2 separate regions of the Homo sapiens genome follow, and region 2 is linked to region 1. The links come from fine-mapping of genetic effects on gene expression. Tissue or cell type: whole blood. Region 1 holds a variant in brackets; the other region holds the start of a gene. All regions are shown on one strand. Distances are from middle to middle.

What was found. PIP is the estimated chance that this variant, and not a neighbour inherited with it, causes the effect.
Region 2: ZNF23 starts here. The variant in region 1 is fine-mapped to the expression of ZNF23 in whole blood (TOPMed, PIP above 0.99).

Annotation. Positions count from the first base shown.
Region 1 is chr16:71,433,117-71,441,220 of GRCh38, forward strand. TLE7 (TLE family member 7) reads right to left here. Exons shown (of 10, transcript NM_001367365.2): 2 at 1-304. The coding sequence starts at 208. Among named protein-coding and RNA genes, the nearest start is that of TLE7, 4.9 kb to the right of the region's middle. The variant A/T (reference allele first, on the strand shown) is at 4,730.
Region 2 is chr16:71,458,546-71,466,649 of GRCh38, forward strand. ZNF23 (zinc finger protein 23) reads right to left here and starts at 3,702. Exons shown (of 5, transcript NM_001381984.1): 1 at 3,665-3,702. LOC124903709 (a long non-coding RNA gene) reads left to right here and starts at 3,767. Exons shown (of 2, transcript XR_007065105.1): 1 at 3,767-4,747; 2 at 5,388-8,104. RefSeq lists enhancers at 3,301-3,390, 3,661-3,820.

The DNA.
Region 1 (8,104 bases):
CCGTGCTTGTCTCTTGATCAGCAGGGCTGTGCTGTATTGGGGGGCCCGGGGGCTGCCAGGGCACTCCCAACAGACTGCCCAGTTGCTGCTGCACTTGTGGCTCAGGCTGAGAGGAAACGCCAGAGCTTTCCAGCACATCCCTCCTCTCCTCTGGCTCACCATAAGCCCCGAACATTCTGAGCGATGCCTCTTCCTTCTCTCCACTCATGTTCTTAGATCAGTGAGGTGTCTGGACCACCCGGTTCTAGGACTTGACAAATAGACCCGCCAAACAGACACCAGGTTCCCAGTGTGTCCTGATCCCCTGTAAGGTGAAAAAAAAGAGACGCAGCTATGCACATGTGCTCTGTAGGGTCTCTTTAGAAGGGGCAGAGAATGTCTCCTTTGGTGAAAAGATTCAAAAGAGTGGTTGCCAACTAGCTTTTCACATTAGGTGTTGGCGGCAATGATGTCAAGGGTGAAAGCGTCACACAAGCACTTTGAGATGTTAGTGCCAGGCATTGTATTTTTCCTTTTATGCAAATGGACTGTATTTCTGGTCATTTAAAAATCAAACTCACCTGCCGGGCACGGTGGCTCACACCTGTAATCCCAGCTCTTTGGGAGGCTGAGGCAGGCAGATCACAAGGCCAGGAGTTTGAGACCAGCCTGGCCAACATTGTGAAACCCAATCTCTACTGAAAATACAAAAATTAGCCGGGCATGATGGCACGTGCCTGTAATCCCAGCTACTTGGGAGGCTGAGGCAGGAGAATCACTTGAACAGAGGAGGCGGAGGTTGCACTGAGGTGAGATCGTGCCACTGCACTCCAGCCTGGTCAACAAAGCAAGACTCCGTCTCAAAAAAATCAAACTCACCTTTTCATCTGGCTGTACATATTTCAAATGAGGGCTCATACCTAAGCTAAATAAAATATAAGGCAACAGGAAATTCCACATACAACATGTGTCTCTCACCTAGAGGGGTTGGAGGAAACCCCAAGAGATCATAAGAATATAAGGTGTCCTACTTGGACGGGGCAAGGCTATCTAATGATGAAGTTGGCTTGGAGGTGATTACTATTTCCTACCCTATGGGATAATTCTGAGAACTGGATGCAATCACTCAAGTAGAATACTCGGCATTGTACAAGGCTAGTGGTAAACAATCAATAGAAGATAGTACACTTATTTGAGGCCTGTGTCAGGGACCAGAGCTTTGAGGATTTAAGTAGACCAAATACCCTCCTTCAGGAAGGCTCCTGCCCAACAGCCAGCCCTAGGAAGGCCCTGGAGAGACCCAGGGTTCTATGAACAGAGCACATCAGGAGCCTTAGGGATGGGACAAGACAATGCGCGGGGAAAGGATCTTCAAGTGAGAACCACCAGCTTGACAGCCAGGCTCAATAGCTGGCTCTCAAACACCCACGAACTCTATGGCAAGCACCAGGGTGGGGGCCCAGGCTACCTGTCCTTGGGAAGATGCAGGGGAGAGTTTTACTTCTCTGTGTGTTTGGCCCTGAACTAAATGCTTTACATAGCTGATCTCATTTTATGCTCACAACTATATGGGCCCCATTTTATAGATTTTTTAAAACTGGAGCTTGGAGAGCACTGGGTCCATGATCAAACTGCTAGAAAACACAGAGAGGAGGTTCGAACCCTGTCCTGCATAGCTCTAAACCACCTCCTTTCCTACCTCCCTATTAGAAGGAAGGCAATATCCGCCATTATTACCGATGCAGTGACCTTTAACCTAGTACTTCCACTTCTAAAAATGTACCCTAGAGGTGCACTTGGATATATGCAAAATAATAGATGTACAAGCTGGAGAACAGCAGCACTGTTTGTGACAATATTGGGACATTGTTTGTTATAACCTTTGCAGAGCCAAGATTGCACCACTGCATTCCAGCCTGGGATTTGGCAGATGTCTGGCCAATGCCCAAATGGCCATGGGAGGAGACTGGTGCAATAAGTTAGAGTATAGCCATATGGTAGAATGGTATGCAGCTATTAAAAATAACAAGGACATGGCTAGGCACGGTAGCTCACGCCTGTAATCCCAGCACTTTGGGAGGCCGAGGCAGGCAGATCATGAGGTCAGGAGTTCAAGACCAGCCTGACCAACAAGGTGAAACGCTGTCTCTACTAAAACTACAAAAATTAGCCAGGTGTGGTGCCACGCACCTGTAATCCCAGCTACTCAGGAGGCTGAGGCAGGAGAATTGCTTGAACCCGGGAGGCGGAGGTTGCAGTGAGCCGAGATCGTGCCAATGCACTCCAGCCTGGGTGGCAGAGTGAAACTCTGTCTCAAAATAAATAAATAAAATAAAATAAAATAAAATAACAAGGATGCATACATTGATATGGAATATTCCAAGGTGTATTAATAAGTGGGTGAAAACTGCAATGTTCAGAAAAATGTGCCAAATATGCAACTTTTATGTAAAAGAAAAATGGAAATTAAATTTATCTTTGTATATAAGAAATTAGAAACAGTGGTTGCCTTTCAGAGATGGAAATTGGCAAATAGGAAAGAAGAATGGGAGGGAGATTTGTCACTGCATAACTCAGTACCTTTTCTGCATATTTCTGGACATTCAAACCTATGTTAAAAATGGTTGGATCTGGAGCCTTTCTCATCTCACCCCAAATGTTGATCCTCCTGATTCTTAGTTGTTTAAATAATTTAACGCACTCTCCTTGACTTGCGTCAGGCTCCTCTAATTGGAGACACCAGGGCTGAGCTTGGAGCATGGAAACTCCCAGCAGAGACCACCACTGCTCAGACCCCCTTTTGGGGCCTACATAAAGTTTAAAAGCAGTGAAACTATTTAACCAGGGCTTCAGCCTCCAAATTTGCCAGAATTTCACCCTAAGAATAAAACAAGGCTTTCTAGAAAGAGCAGGAGGAAGAGTCAGTATCACCGATTCCCTTCTCTTCTCTCTCCCAGAGCTAGGAACACAGAGCTCCCCACCCTCTTACCAGACAACTCTCTTTCCAAAGCCCCCAGAATGCTGGTCTGGGGGCTCACTCAAACCCCCCATGGCAGGAAACTCACCTCTGAAGGAAGAAGGTCAAACCCTAGACATGGGAAGTCAGCCAAGCTAAGACCCAGCCAGGCATAAGAATCCCCACATCCTCTCCCAGCCCCAGACCCTCCCTTCCACACCCAGGTGCTGCCCCTATCCTGCGGTGCTGCTGCTTTTAAACGTGAGCCTAATGGGTTGTCAAGCCCTGGGTCAGAATCTCGGTCAGGTATCCTGGCCCTGAATGGCTGTCAATCAATCACCAGACGTGGCCACACAACCAACCCCGCTGAGCCAAGCTGCTGCTGGCGGTATCTCAGGTTAACCTATGAGCCCTTGAATTGGGGGTAGTAAGACAGGGACCCACCAAGTATTTTCATGGTAGGAGTTAAGATAGAGGGAGACATTTTTAGGGGGATACGTCTTTGGACTGGATTCAAACCACCCTACAAGAGCCAGCGTCTGTGCAAAGATGGGGAGTTGAGTTGAGCTGTTCGCCAGAGCCAAGAGTCAGAGTCTCAGCTCCAGGTGAATCTCCTTTGCTTGAGAAGGCTGATCTTGGCCTGAAGCCAACAGTGGGTGACTGTGGGAGGGACACGGGGCCGCTTTCCTCTTCCTCCCCTGCTCTGGCCTGAGCGTGCCTGGCTCTGGGCCTCTAATCTTTTACCAGTGTCCCTGAAAGCAAAGACTGAGGAACACTCTCTTTTTCGTGGCTGTCTCAGCCAGTGGTTCTTACATTGGAGCACACATCAAATCCCCTGGAGGCCTTGTTAAAAGTGTGGTGGACCCACTCCCAGAAATTCTGATTCAGGGCTGGGCACAGTGGCTCACACCTGTAATCCCAGCACTTGGGGAGGCCGAGGCGGGCAGATCACTTGAAGTCAGGACCAGCCTGTCCAACATGGTGAAACCCTGTCTATACTAAACATACAAAAATTAACTGGGTATGGTGGTGCACGCCTGTAATCCCAGCACTTTGGGAAGCCGAGGCAGGTGGATCACCTGAGGTCAGATGTTTGAGACCAGCCTGGCCAACATGGTGAAACCCTGTCTCTACTAGAAATACAAAAATTAGCTGGGCATGATGGTGCGTGCCTGTAATTCCAGCTACTTGGGAGGCTGAGGCACAAGAATTACTTGAATCTGGGAGGTGGAGGCTGCAGTGAGCTGAGATTGCGCCACTGCATTCCAGCCTGAGTGACAGAGTGAGACTCTGTCTCAGAAAAAAAAAAAAAAAAAGGAAAAGAAAGGGAGGGAGGAGAGAGAGAGAGAAGAGAAGAAAAGAAAGGAAGGAAGAAACAAAGAGGAAGGAAGGAAGAAAGGAAAGAGAAGGGAGAAGAGAAGAGAAGAGAAGAGAAAGAAATTTTGATTCAGTAGGCATGGGTGGGGCCCAAGACTGTGTTTCTAACAAGTTCCCGATGTGTTGGTGATGCTGTTGCTGCTGCCACCAGGCTGGGGACCAGCATCTGAGAGGCACTGGGGGAACCCTTCGGTCTGAGGATCCCTTTCTGGAAGGAGAGGAAGGGGTGATGAAGCTGGACCCCTTTCCTCCTTCACTCCTTGCTTTTGCCTCCATTCCCTGATCACCCCCTTTCCCCCACTGAATCTACTGTCTCCTCTCCTCTGGCTTCTTTCTCATTCATTGGCTCCCTTCTTTTGAAGAAATCCTGAGATGGCTGCTACTTACAGAGGAATCTTTTACCACCCCTGACCTCCA[A/T]TCTCCAAAGCTCTCTGTCTCTCCCTTCTCCCCTCTGCCTCACTTACACACCCCTTGTCCCCAGAACGTCTGTGGCTGCCTATTGCCTTCAAGATAATGTTGCTGGAAAGAGAGGGTCCTGATCCAGACCCCAAGAGTCTTGGATCTCACGCAGGAAGGAATTAAAGGCAGGTCACAGAGTGCAGCGTGAAAGAAACAAGTTTATTAGAAACTACTCTGTTGTAGAGTGGAGCATCCTCAGAAAGCAGGAGGAGGAACACACCATCTTCTGTTAGTGTCTCTACTTATAAGAAACCATAAGGAGTGGCCGGACACAGTGGTTCACAGCCGTAATCCCAGCACTTTGGGAGGCCGAGGCGGGTGGATCACCTGAGGTCACGAGTTCGAGACCAGCCTGGCCAACGTGGTGAAACCCGTCTCTAATAAAAATACAAAATTAGCCAGGCATGGTGGCATGCCTATCATCCCAGCTACTCAGGAGGCTGAGGCAGGAGAATCACCTGAGCCCAGGAGGCAGAGCCCTGAAGCAAGATTGCGCCACTCCACTCCAGCCTGGGTGACAGAACGAGACTCCATCTCAAAAAAAAAAAAAAAAAGAGAGAGAGAAAGAAAGAAAAGAGAAAAAAGAAAAGAAAAGAAACCATAAGGAGCTGTAATTAAACTTGGAATGTGCAGATTGCTTGCTAAAGGTAAGGGATATTGGTGGGCGGCTGTAATCCCAGCTATTCGGGAGGCTGAGGCAGGGAGAATCACTTGAACCCAGGAGACAGAGGTTGCCGTGAGCCAAGATCGCACCACTGCACTCCAGCCTGGGTATCAGGGTGAGACTCCATCTCAAAAAAAAAAAAAAAAAAAGCGAAAATAGGGACAGCCCGAGGAGTTGCAAGAGTCAAAGAGAGCCGTGGTTCTTATACCCAGAGGCAAGTTAAAGGCAATTGGTGCTTTAGAAATAACCAGATGGACAGAGAGTGCATCCTGTTGTCCCTCAGCCGTGGATAGAGGGACCCAGCTTGAGCTCAGGATGTGCCATAGTTGAAATTCAGGTGTATGTGGGCAACAGGTGGGACCCCCTTGACCAAAACTGTCACAACCAGGGTAAAGTTGATTCCACGCAGAGAAAGCAAACAGGGCTAATGATAGTAATCAAACACACCTGTGCCCCTTCCCCACCACCTTTCCATCCCCGTGGCCAGTTGGCACAGTCTTACTGACCCCCGCTGTGCTGGGCACTGAGGAGATGAGGCTGGGCCCACAGAGCTGACCATGACCCGTGTGGAATTCCCTCTTTGAAGGGAAACTGACCACTGAACTGGAGATTACAAGTCAGAGTGGAAAGTGACATGGTGGAGGAGGAGGGCTGTAAAGGGGTGGGGTGTGTGAGCCCAGAGAAAGTCACATAACCTGGAAGTGAAAGGTGATAGGGAGTACGTAAGGTCAGAAGGATGGAAGGACTCAGCGGGGGAAGCAGGGTAGCAGAGAGCATAGGAGAATGTTCCAGACAGACAGAAGGGCAGAGGCAAAGGAATGGATTTTAGCAATTGGGAGAATTTTCTAGGGGCTGGAGCACAGAGGGTGTGTGTTTTGGAGGCAGGGAGGGCAGGAATGTGTCCTCCTTTCCAGAGAGAGTTGGAAGGCATTTGGGGGTGGTTCTGAGCTGGGGGAGACATAATCAGAGTTGGGTTTCAGAAGGAGGACTGTAGCTGTTCTTCTAGGGATAGAATGGGGGGAAGGGACAAGACTGGAGGCTGGGAACCAGCTAAAAGAAAAAGACACTCCACATCACCAGTCATCCGGGAAATGGAAATCAAAGCCACATGTAATAGATCACTTCACACACCCTAGGATGGCTATGACAGCCACCAAAACCACAGAAAATAACAAATGTTGGTGAGAATGTGGGGAAATTGGAACCCTCCTACGTTGCTGATAGGAATACCACGGAGCAGCCACTGTGAAAAACAGTTTGGCAACTCCTCAGAGTTAACATGTGACCCAGCAGCTCCACTCTTAAGTATATGCCCCCAAAAATGGAAAACAGGGACTTAAACATTTCTTGGACACCAGTGTTCACAGAAGCATTATTCACAGTAGCCAAAAAGAAACAACCCAAGTGTCCCCCAATTGAAGAATGGATCAAAATGTGGTGTAAATATACAACGGAGCATTACTCAGCCATAAAAAGAATGAAGCTGTGATACACACTACCACATGGGTGAACCTGAAAATATTATGCTATGTGAAATAAGCCAGACACAAAAGGCCAATACTGCATGATTCTATCTACATGAAATATCCACAAAAGGCCAGTCCTTAGAGACAGAAAGCAGGTTAGTGGTTGCCAGGGACTGGCAAAGGGGAATGGGACGCCACTTCTTAATGGGTCTGGAATTCCTTTTGGGATGACAAAAAAGTTCTGAAACTAGAGGGTGGTGATGGTTGTGCAACATTGTGATGTACCTAATGCCACGGAATTGTACACTTTAAAATAGCTAAGATGAGCCGGGCACCTGTAATCCCAGCTACTCGGGAGGCTGAGGCAGGAGAATCACTTGAACCCAGGAGGCAGAGGTTGCAGTGAACCGAAATCGGGCGACTGCACTCCAGCCTGGGCAACAGAGCGAGACTGCGCCTCAAAAGAAAAAAAAAATAGCTAAAGTGTTAAATTTCATGTTATGTGTATTTTACAAGAAAGACCCAAAACCAGACATGGGGTCATGAGTTAGGGGTCCTGCAAATCCCAACAGCATTTTTCCTTCTTCCCCTTTAGCCAGCAAACTCCAGGCACTTTAGCTGGTGGTTTTCTTCCCTTTGCTCCCCTAGAAGAGCCACACAGCTGCAGGTGTCCCAGCCCGGAGGCTATGGGTAGCTGTCGTCAAATGGCTGGTGGGACCCCAACACCTAGTGGGCCAACACAAAGGTCAGAGATGGGGTCATCTGGGCAGAACTGCGACTGTGAGCCTCCAGATCTTTATTTGAGGGCTGACGCGCCCTCTGGCGGGCACCTGGAAGGGACAATGCACGGCCAGGCCCCTCCTCCCACCTCCTCCCTCACTGTCACGGGGAGCCCCAACTCCCCATTCCTTGCCAAGGCCCCTTCCTCCTAGCATGGTGACGCTGCCCTTCCCACAAGCACGGTGGCGTCTCCCGCATCGTACATTGCTCTTCCCACCCACCTCGCGTCCCGTCCCTGCCATGGGAAGTTTGCATTCCCAAGTCCTGCATTCCGATTTCTGTCCTGGGTCCATCTCTTATCTCCCCAGGGACCTGTTACCAAAGCCCCCTGCTCAGTCACTCTCAGGAGCCCGCCGGCAACTTTCCGCCTCCCCCACAGTCCTCGACAGCAACTCTACAATGTGGGCCTCGCAGCAGGATTTC
Region 2 (8,104 bases), 25 kb after region 1:
TATATGGAGACGGGGCCTGTCAGGAGGTTACAAGGATAAATGAGGTCCTAAGGGTGGGACTAAAGGTCCTAAGGTTAAATGAGGTCCAATAGGGGTGATGCCTTTACAAGAAGAAGGAGAGACCCAGAGCCCACGAAACCACTCACTCCCCGCCTCCCCCATGTGAGGACACAACGAGAGGGCTACTATCTATAAGCCAGGAAGGCAACCCTGGCAGGAGCCAAAATCAGCTGGCACCTTGATCCTGGACTTCCAGTCTCCAGGACTGTGAGAAATAAGTATGTTGGTGAAGCCACCCAGTCTATGGTATTTTGTTATGGCAGCCCAAGCAGACTAATACAGTTAGGCTGAGCAGTGTTTTACTTATTTTAATGTGGTTTCCTTTTATTTTCAAAGAACCAGCTTTTCTAGTTGAGCAACACTACTTTCTTCTATTTGTTTTAAATTCACTAATTCTGCTCTTAGTTTGTTCCTTCAGCTCTGTAAGGGGCAGTGTAAGCACCACTCCAATCCTCTTATCCCATCCTCAGTCCAGTTCTACAGAGGTTAGTCAGCTTTGTGAAGCTGCAAGCTACCAGAACCTTCACAAGGACCTACATCACCTATGCCTGGTTCCTGCCCTGGGGCTTCTCTGGTGTCCTATGTGGGACACCTGTGGACACCTGCTGGGCCCTGAAGTGCAGAGGCATTAACACCTGTGGGACCCCCTTGACCAATAGGGGAGAGAAACCAATGGATAAATGTTTTCCCCGTCGATCCCCCAGCGGGGCAGCCTTAAGACTCCAAGGCTCCTCAAACGCCCTGCAAGGCAGAGCCTGTTGAGGGCCGAGCATACCAATGCATCCTTGTACCAGTTCTCCCATCTCTGTTTCACTCCCCTTGTCTTTCACTCTGCCCCTGTGACCATATTCCTAAATAAATTCCTACATACAAATCTTTGTTCCACGTTCTGCTTTTGGGGAAGCTTAGACTACAAAAGGCTTTTTTCCCACCTTCTTGAGGTTGCATGACTTATTCATTTATTTTCATTCTTCCTATTTGGCAATTAAAGCCTATAAGGCCACAAATTTTCCTTGGGATACACTATTTGCCACATTCCAGAGGTTTTTATATTTCATGTTTTAATTACTGTTTTATAGTCAGTCAGCAATTCTGTTTTGTCTCTGACCTAGTAATTGCTTAGGATAGTTTACTGTTGCTAATTTCTTCTGTTTATAAGTTCTGGCTTTATTGCATGATGGTTATATAACCCAATCTACTAACTTCTACTTTACACATTTTTCAGGGTTTTTTTGTGACTCATGTCCATTTAAAAAAATATATTATCTGGTGTTTAAAGAGAAAACTTATTCTGTGATGGGAGAATATACAACTCCATTTTTAGATAATAAACCAACTCTACCAATTACATATGTAGTGTGATAGCTACCCCGCTCAGCTAGTCAAGGGTGTATACCTGCTGCCTGAACCTTGAAGACCGGGCAGTGAGTCAAGACCATGGGGCTCAGCAGAGGAGCAGGTGTTTGCAAGAACGTAAACATCCTAGAAAGTATATGAGAACCTACCAAGAAAAGTCTCATCGTTTAAATGCAGTAGGCAAACAGCCAGAAAATTCTCTAAAAAGTACTTAGAGACGAGGGGCATCACAGGTCTCTAAAGCTGTCCTGCTGCCATCCAGGAGTAAGTATGTAAGTCCTAATAAACTCATCTACTTGCCAAGCTGGACTCGTCCAAGGCATTCTTTGGTCTCTTGGCTCCCTCCCAAGGGGATAGTTTTTTTTTTTAAATACGATTCCAGGTTTTTTCCTGTTATGACATTATATAGATTTTCTACATAATCCTTGATTACTTTTACCTAATTAAACCAAGATGGCCAGTGAAGAACTAACTCTCACAAAACACTGAGCTCAGATGTGTCATGAGCAAATTCTTTCAATGTTTCGGAAATGAGTAATTCTAACACTATGTAAACCGTAGCAGAGCACAGCAAAGTAAGTTTCCCAATTCTTTTTATGGTGCCAGCACAATACTGATGCAAAAACTACAGACCAGTCTCATTTATGAATTCTAATGCAAAAATTCTATCAAGGAATAGACTCCAATAGTTCATTAAATACATCATGAGTAAGTAGGATTATCCCACGAAGATACTAATTAGTATATTTTTCACATTAATAAATCAAAGAAAGATAAACACACTGTCCATCTCAACAGATGCCAAAGATGTTTAACATAATTCAACATTTGTGCCTAATTTTAAAAACTTACACACTAGAGAAACTCTCATATGTAGGAAGTACGTACAAAAATATTATCAGCACATTTTAATAACAAAACACTGAAAACAACCCACATGTCCATTGAAAATACATCGATAAATTTTCATACAGTTTTTACAATGGAACATTACCCAGAAGCTACACACAGAATGAATTTGGAAACTTAACATTGAATTATGCGAGTCCCAGATGACTTATACACACAATGGTGCCATTTATATGAAGCTCAAAAAAAAAATTTAAGTACATTGCTTACAGATACATGCATATGTAATTATTTTTTAAAATAACAGGGCTACAATTAACACAAAAGTCAATATAACTGTTACCTCTAGGGGTTGGAGGCTGGGAGTTGGGTTGAGGAGGAGGAACACATTGATAAATTCAGCAGTACTGGCAATCTTCTCTTTCTTAATTGGGTGGTGTGTTCATGGATGTTTACTACTATATATGTAACATATAAATATATATTTTAAATAAATATATAAACCAGCAAGGATGGGGTGAAATTGAGGACCCAAAATGTAATACAAAGAACAGCCAATGTGCTTAACTATACTACAGTGAACATAACCACACTTAAGTGGTAGGAAAGAAAAGGGGTAAGCAACTTTGGAAAACAGTATTTTGACTAAATACCATAAGAGTAAAGACAAAAAGACCTGTATCCAAGTACTGTACTTTAGGTAGTAAATTTGCTTTTCATGGGGGTATGAATTAGCGATTCTGAGACTACTAAATATATTCTAAAACTGAGTGAATTCGTAATTACGTTGTAGAAGTCATTCCCAGGTCACTGTCAACCCTGAGCCGAGAGAAGCAGGGCTGAGTTACCTTTTGGGACTGACACTGCTCCAGGAGACAATGTCCTCCAAAAGCCGGGCTGCTTCTGCTGCCGGGTGACTGGGAGGGGCTCTGCGCTCCCACTCGGCCCTAATTCATGACCCTATGTCAGGAGCCTGGGAGCACACGGTCCATACTCGGGATGCACATAGGTTAATGTTCCTGCCAGACCTCAGCATGTCAAAAGACTTGTGGTATCACCTCGGGCCGCTTCACGCCCGCAAATATTCCATCTTTTAGCTGCACCGACACATCTTCCCCCGTCGACCAAGTGCTAAATGCTCAGGGCCTCGTGGCTGGGACAGCAACGTGCGTTTCCCCTTCCAATGGGCGCAAGCTATTGAGCCACAAAGACCAAAGCTGGAGTCGAGGAGCGCGGAAGAGCACCCCGGGCCGCCGCCCTGCTCCCTCTCCCAGCCTGGGCCTCCTGGCAGCGTAGGCCACGGGAGACCCTGCAGCACCCAGGGTGGGAGTGCGTCTCAACCGGACCCAGAGCCTGGGGGACAGGGCACGGCACACAGCGCCCGGAGCCCTGCACTCACCTCCGTAGCGGACTGCTCCCCGGCGCTGCCGGAAGTGCGTCACCAGGCGGCCGGGCCTCTCTAGGAGCAAGGTCGCTGCGCCTCGGTGGTGGTCACGCCCGGCCAGCTGTGGCCGCATCCCTGTCGGCTAGCTCGGGTCTGGCCCACGGTGACTGTTACCCCTGGGGAATGGGGCAGGTAAGAATCAGAGCCAAGCGGGGACCCAGCCCGGGGAGGTGAAGCTGCAGGTGCAGCCACGTGTGGGAGTCTTGGAAATGGACCAGTGGATGGCGCGCTGTCACACCCAATGCCCCCTTTTTCTAACAAATAGTTTGTAATGTCCATCTTATTCTCCTGACCTGATATTCATATATAATGGCCTAGAAAATCATACATAACATACACACCTACATATTAAAAACTAATGTTATGCCTTAAGTGTAATGAAAGAGAAAAAAAAGAGGACCGTCATCTGTCGTTTAAAAACACATACTTCAATGTGTTTGGTCTTGGCTGCTGCAGGAGACCTAATAAGGTGGTCGCCTTTACACATAGACGTTGTCTGAGTGCCACAGCCACAAAGCTGTGACTTACATTGTTGCAAAAGTCACAAAATTATGATCCAAAATGGCAAACATGTTTTCGTGAAGTTCTGAATGAAACACAGGACAATCGTCTCTTGATTATACAATAATTACATTCCTGGAAGATCAGTGTATGTTAAAACTGTGCAAAAATACATGTTTATCCAGAAAACAGGTTTAGATTCAGATAATTTAGAAATAGAATTTTCACCTACCTGAATGTTCAGCAAGACATTTGAAAGTGTGAACATTTTTTCAGTGGGCAGGACTGTCCTGTACATTGCAGGATCCTGGCTCCTATCCACAACGCTAGTAGCAATGTTACCACTGACACCAAATATAACAAAATACCTACCATAAAATTCCAAAATGAGCCCTGGGGGAAGGGAGACAGTACTAAATGCCACTGGATTGGACGACCCTTAAAATCCCCACCCCCTCACACACCCCCTAACCCTGGTAATGTGGGCTTTTCTTCCTTCCAGCTCTGATCCATCCAACGCTGCTGCACTGGAGACTGGTATTTGGCTCCCACTTGCCTCTGTGGCTTCTTATCACTCCCATTCATTCCCTGACTCTACCTCAGCCCTACATGCTAAAAATGCTGTTCTCTAAATCTAGAATGCCCTTCCCTTCCCATTCCTACCCTCCATCTTGACTGTTACTGGAAGTGTGAGCTCAAATCCCATTTTGCATGGGAAGCAAGCCTTCCCTCATCACCCAGAATAAGGCAGGACACTCATTTATGTGCCATCACAGCACTGTGTACTTACTTAATGGTGATAGTTTATTTATATGTCTGTCTTCTCTGGTGGCTGCAGGGAACAGACACTGTATCTATCTTGTTCAACATCATCATCCTCAGCTAGAGAATAACTGGCAGAAAGAAGGAGAGCAATAAACATTTGTTGTTGACAATGGTCCAAAGGCTCCAGCCCTAACTCTTAGGCAGAAGCCTACTTTGTGTGTCCCCAAGGGTAGGATATGTCTTATGCCTTGGACCTTGACAGTGACCATGGCCAGGTGCCCTTCTCTGCCTTGCCCTGACCCTGATCTTCACTGTTTTCCAAAATGAGTTCATTAAGAAAATGATTGGGCAGAGTAATAGCTGGGGATTACGTTGCTCTTGTCAATAAGTTCTGGTTTTCACTTCTTTCTAGGGTCAGAAATCAGGAGTGAGGACTTGTTGAAAGAAATAGGAAGGAATCAGATCACATAAATGCTGGCCCCAAATGTTTGCATCATAAACCCATTGCCTAATTTTACAGTTGAGAAAATAAAGCTCTCTAAATAACCACAAAGCTCCTACTCCTACTTCAGACATATCAGAAAAATGAGATAATAATGCACAAACCAAGTTTCAAAAGCTCTATGGTAGGTCTGGAGAGATGGAGATCAGTTCTTGTCTGTCAGCCCCTGTTCTTCCATTCTTATAAGGTTACAGAATCTCTAGCAAGGGACATGACAGCTCAGGGAAAAAGCACACATTTCCCAGCATTCTTTAAGGCAAAGTGTGTCCATGTGACCAACTTCTGGCAAACAGGCTGTAAGAAAATGTGATGCTGTGTCCTTAAAGACAAGGGACATGCCCTCCCTGCCCCCAAACCTTCATCGACCAGGTGGAATGTTGACAAGGGAGAGCATCAGAGCATCTTGGACCATGTGAATAAGGGTGTGGCTGCTGGGGATGACAGAGCAACTAAAAGGAGGAGGCACAGAGCTGCTATATCAGCCCCAGATGGCTTACTTTCTGATGATACATGAGAGAGAAATAAACTTTCATCAAATTTAAACCACATTTATTTGGGTTCTTCAAATTAATTTCCAAGCCCATAGCCTAACTAATACCCCTAGAAATGAGGAAGGATGGAAAAATCACACAACACAAGAGTTAAAAAATTAAGCTGGCTCTTCGACTACAGCATTCTAGAAGTTCATTTCCATGCTGGGCCTGCAGCCATGTAGTGTCAGTTTCCTCCTGCTCAGCTCTAAGGCTTCTTCTCCTGCACCCTTTGTCCCTGCAGCCCCAAGACCTCTCTAAAGCCCTTCCTCTCTGACCACCAGGGAAAGCTGACAATCTTCTCATGTTAAAAAAAATCTTTTTTGTTGGCCAGGCGTGGTGGCTCACACCTGGAATCCCAGCACTTTGGCAGGCTGAGGTGGGGGGAGTTACCTGAGGTTGGGAGTTCGAGACCAGCCTGACTAACGTGGAGAAACTCTGTCTCTACTAAAAATACAAAATTAGCCAGGCGTGGTGGCGCATGCCTGTATTCCCAGCTACTCGGGAGGCTGAGGCCAGAGAATCGCCTGAACCCAGGAGGCGGAAGTTGTGGTGGGCTGAGATAGCGCCATTGCACTCCAGCCTGGGCGACAAGAGCGAAACTCCGTCTCAAAAAAGAAAAAATATTTCTTGTTGTTTCCAGTTTTAATAGGACAGAGTAAAGATGGCTTTGCCTGCTTCTTCTCATGAAAACTGTGGCAAAACAACTGTCTGGTTGATGTTCATTCCAGGAGTTCAAGGCTGTTTTCAGGCTACAAAATTTTTACCTACTTATTGATGTTGTGAGTTCTGTGAATAAATCATTTAATCTATGTGGAGAAATGTACTAGGGTAGGGCAAGGTCTTATTCTCAAAGCAACCAAACATATATAGGAATAAGTTTACTAATAAATGTATAAGACATATATCAAGAAAATTTTAAACATTTGGGGACTAAACCAATGAAAACCCCTTGTGTAAATGGAAAGGCACAGGTAATCCTTCAGTAGGAAGGGTAGTTTTCTTTATTTAATCCATAAGTCCAACGTCATACCAAATAAAACCCCTATAGGATTTGTTTTAAAACTTGTGAAAATGATTCTAAAATTTACGCAGAAAAAATGTTAGAAGTGACTGGACAGTGCCTCATGCCTATAATCCCAGCACTTTGAGAGGCCAACGTGGACAGATCACCTGAGCTCAGGAGTTCAAGACCAGCCTGGCCAACATGGTGAAACCTTGTCTTTACTAAAAATACAAAAATTAGCCCAGCGTGGTGGCGCACACCTGTAATCCCAGCTACTGGGGAAGCTGGGGCAGGAGAATTGCTTGAACCCGAGAGGCGGAGGTTGTAGTGAGCCAAGATCATGCCACTGCACTCCAGCCTGGGTGACAGAATGAGACTCCGTCAAAAAAAAAAAGAGAGAGAGAAGGAGAGAGAAAGAAAGAAAGAGAGAGAGAAAGAGAAAGAAAGAGAAAGAAAGGAAGGAAGGAAGGAAAGAAAATGTTAGATGCTTATAAGGTACTACTGAAACTTAAGAAAGCACAAGTATTGAAAGTCAAAGAATGGAAAATAGATATATCAGACAAGTATTAAGGGAAAGGGAAAATGGCACAGCTATATTAATATCTCACAACAATAAGTTTAAGACAATAAATATTACGCAGAATTCAGTTGAGGGCAATGTAGCAAATAATATAAACTAGAATCTAGAAATTTAGAATAAGATATAATATTCGACATCATTTTAAATACTTAACTCACAGGAAAGTGTACCCACGTACCAAAACCAAACAAGAAACTAAAACCAGAGGCATTGGTTTGGACTGAGGACCTCAGCTGATGCTTTGGCCAACAGGGGTGGGAATGGTGAAGAGTTGTAAGTCTTGATATCTGAGAAAGCAGAATTATAATATGCAGGAGGCATATTACAGGAACAAGGAATAGGAACAGAGACTTTTCTCACACACATACACTCATCCAATCATGAAAGGATAAATTTTTTAAAAATCTCATGAACAAAGAGAGATAACAAAGAATCTTATGGTCCTTGCCTAAGCTTTGAAGTGGTAGTAGAAATGTCTTCTAAAAATTTATAATCATAGTTTGCATCATTA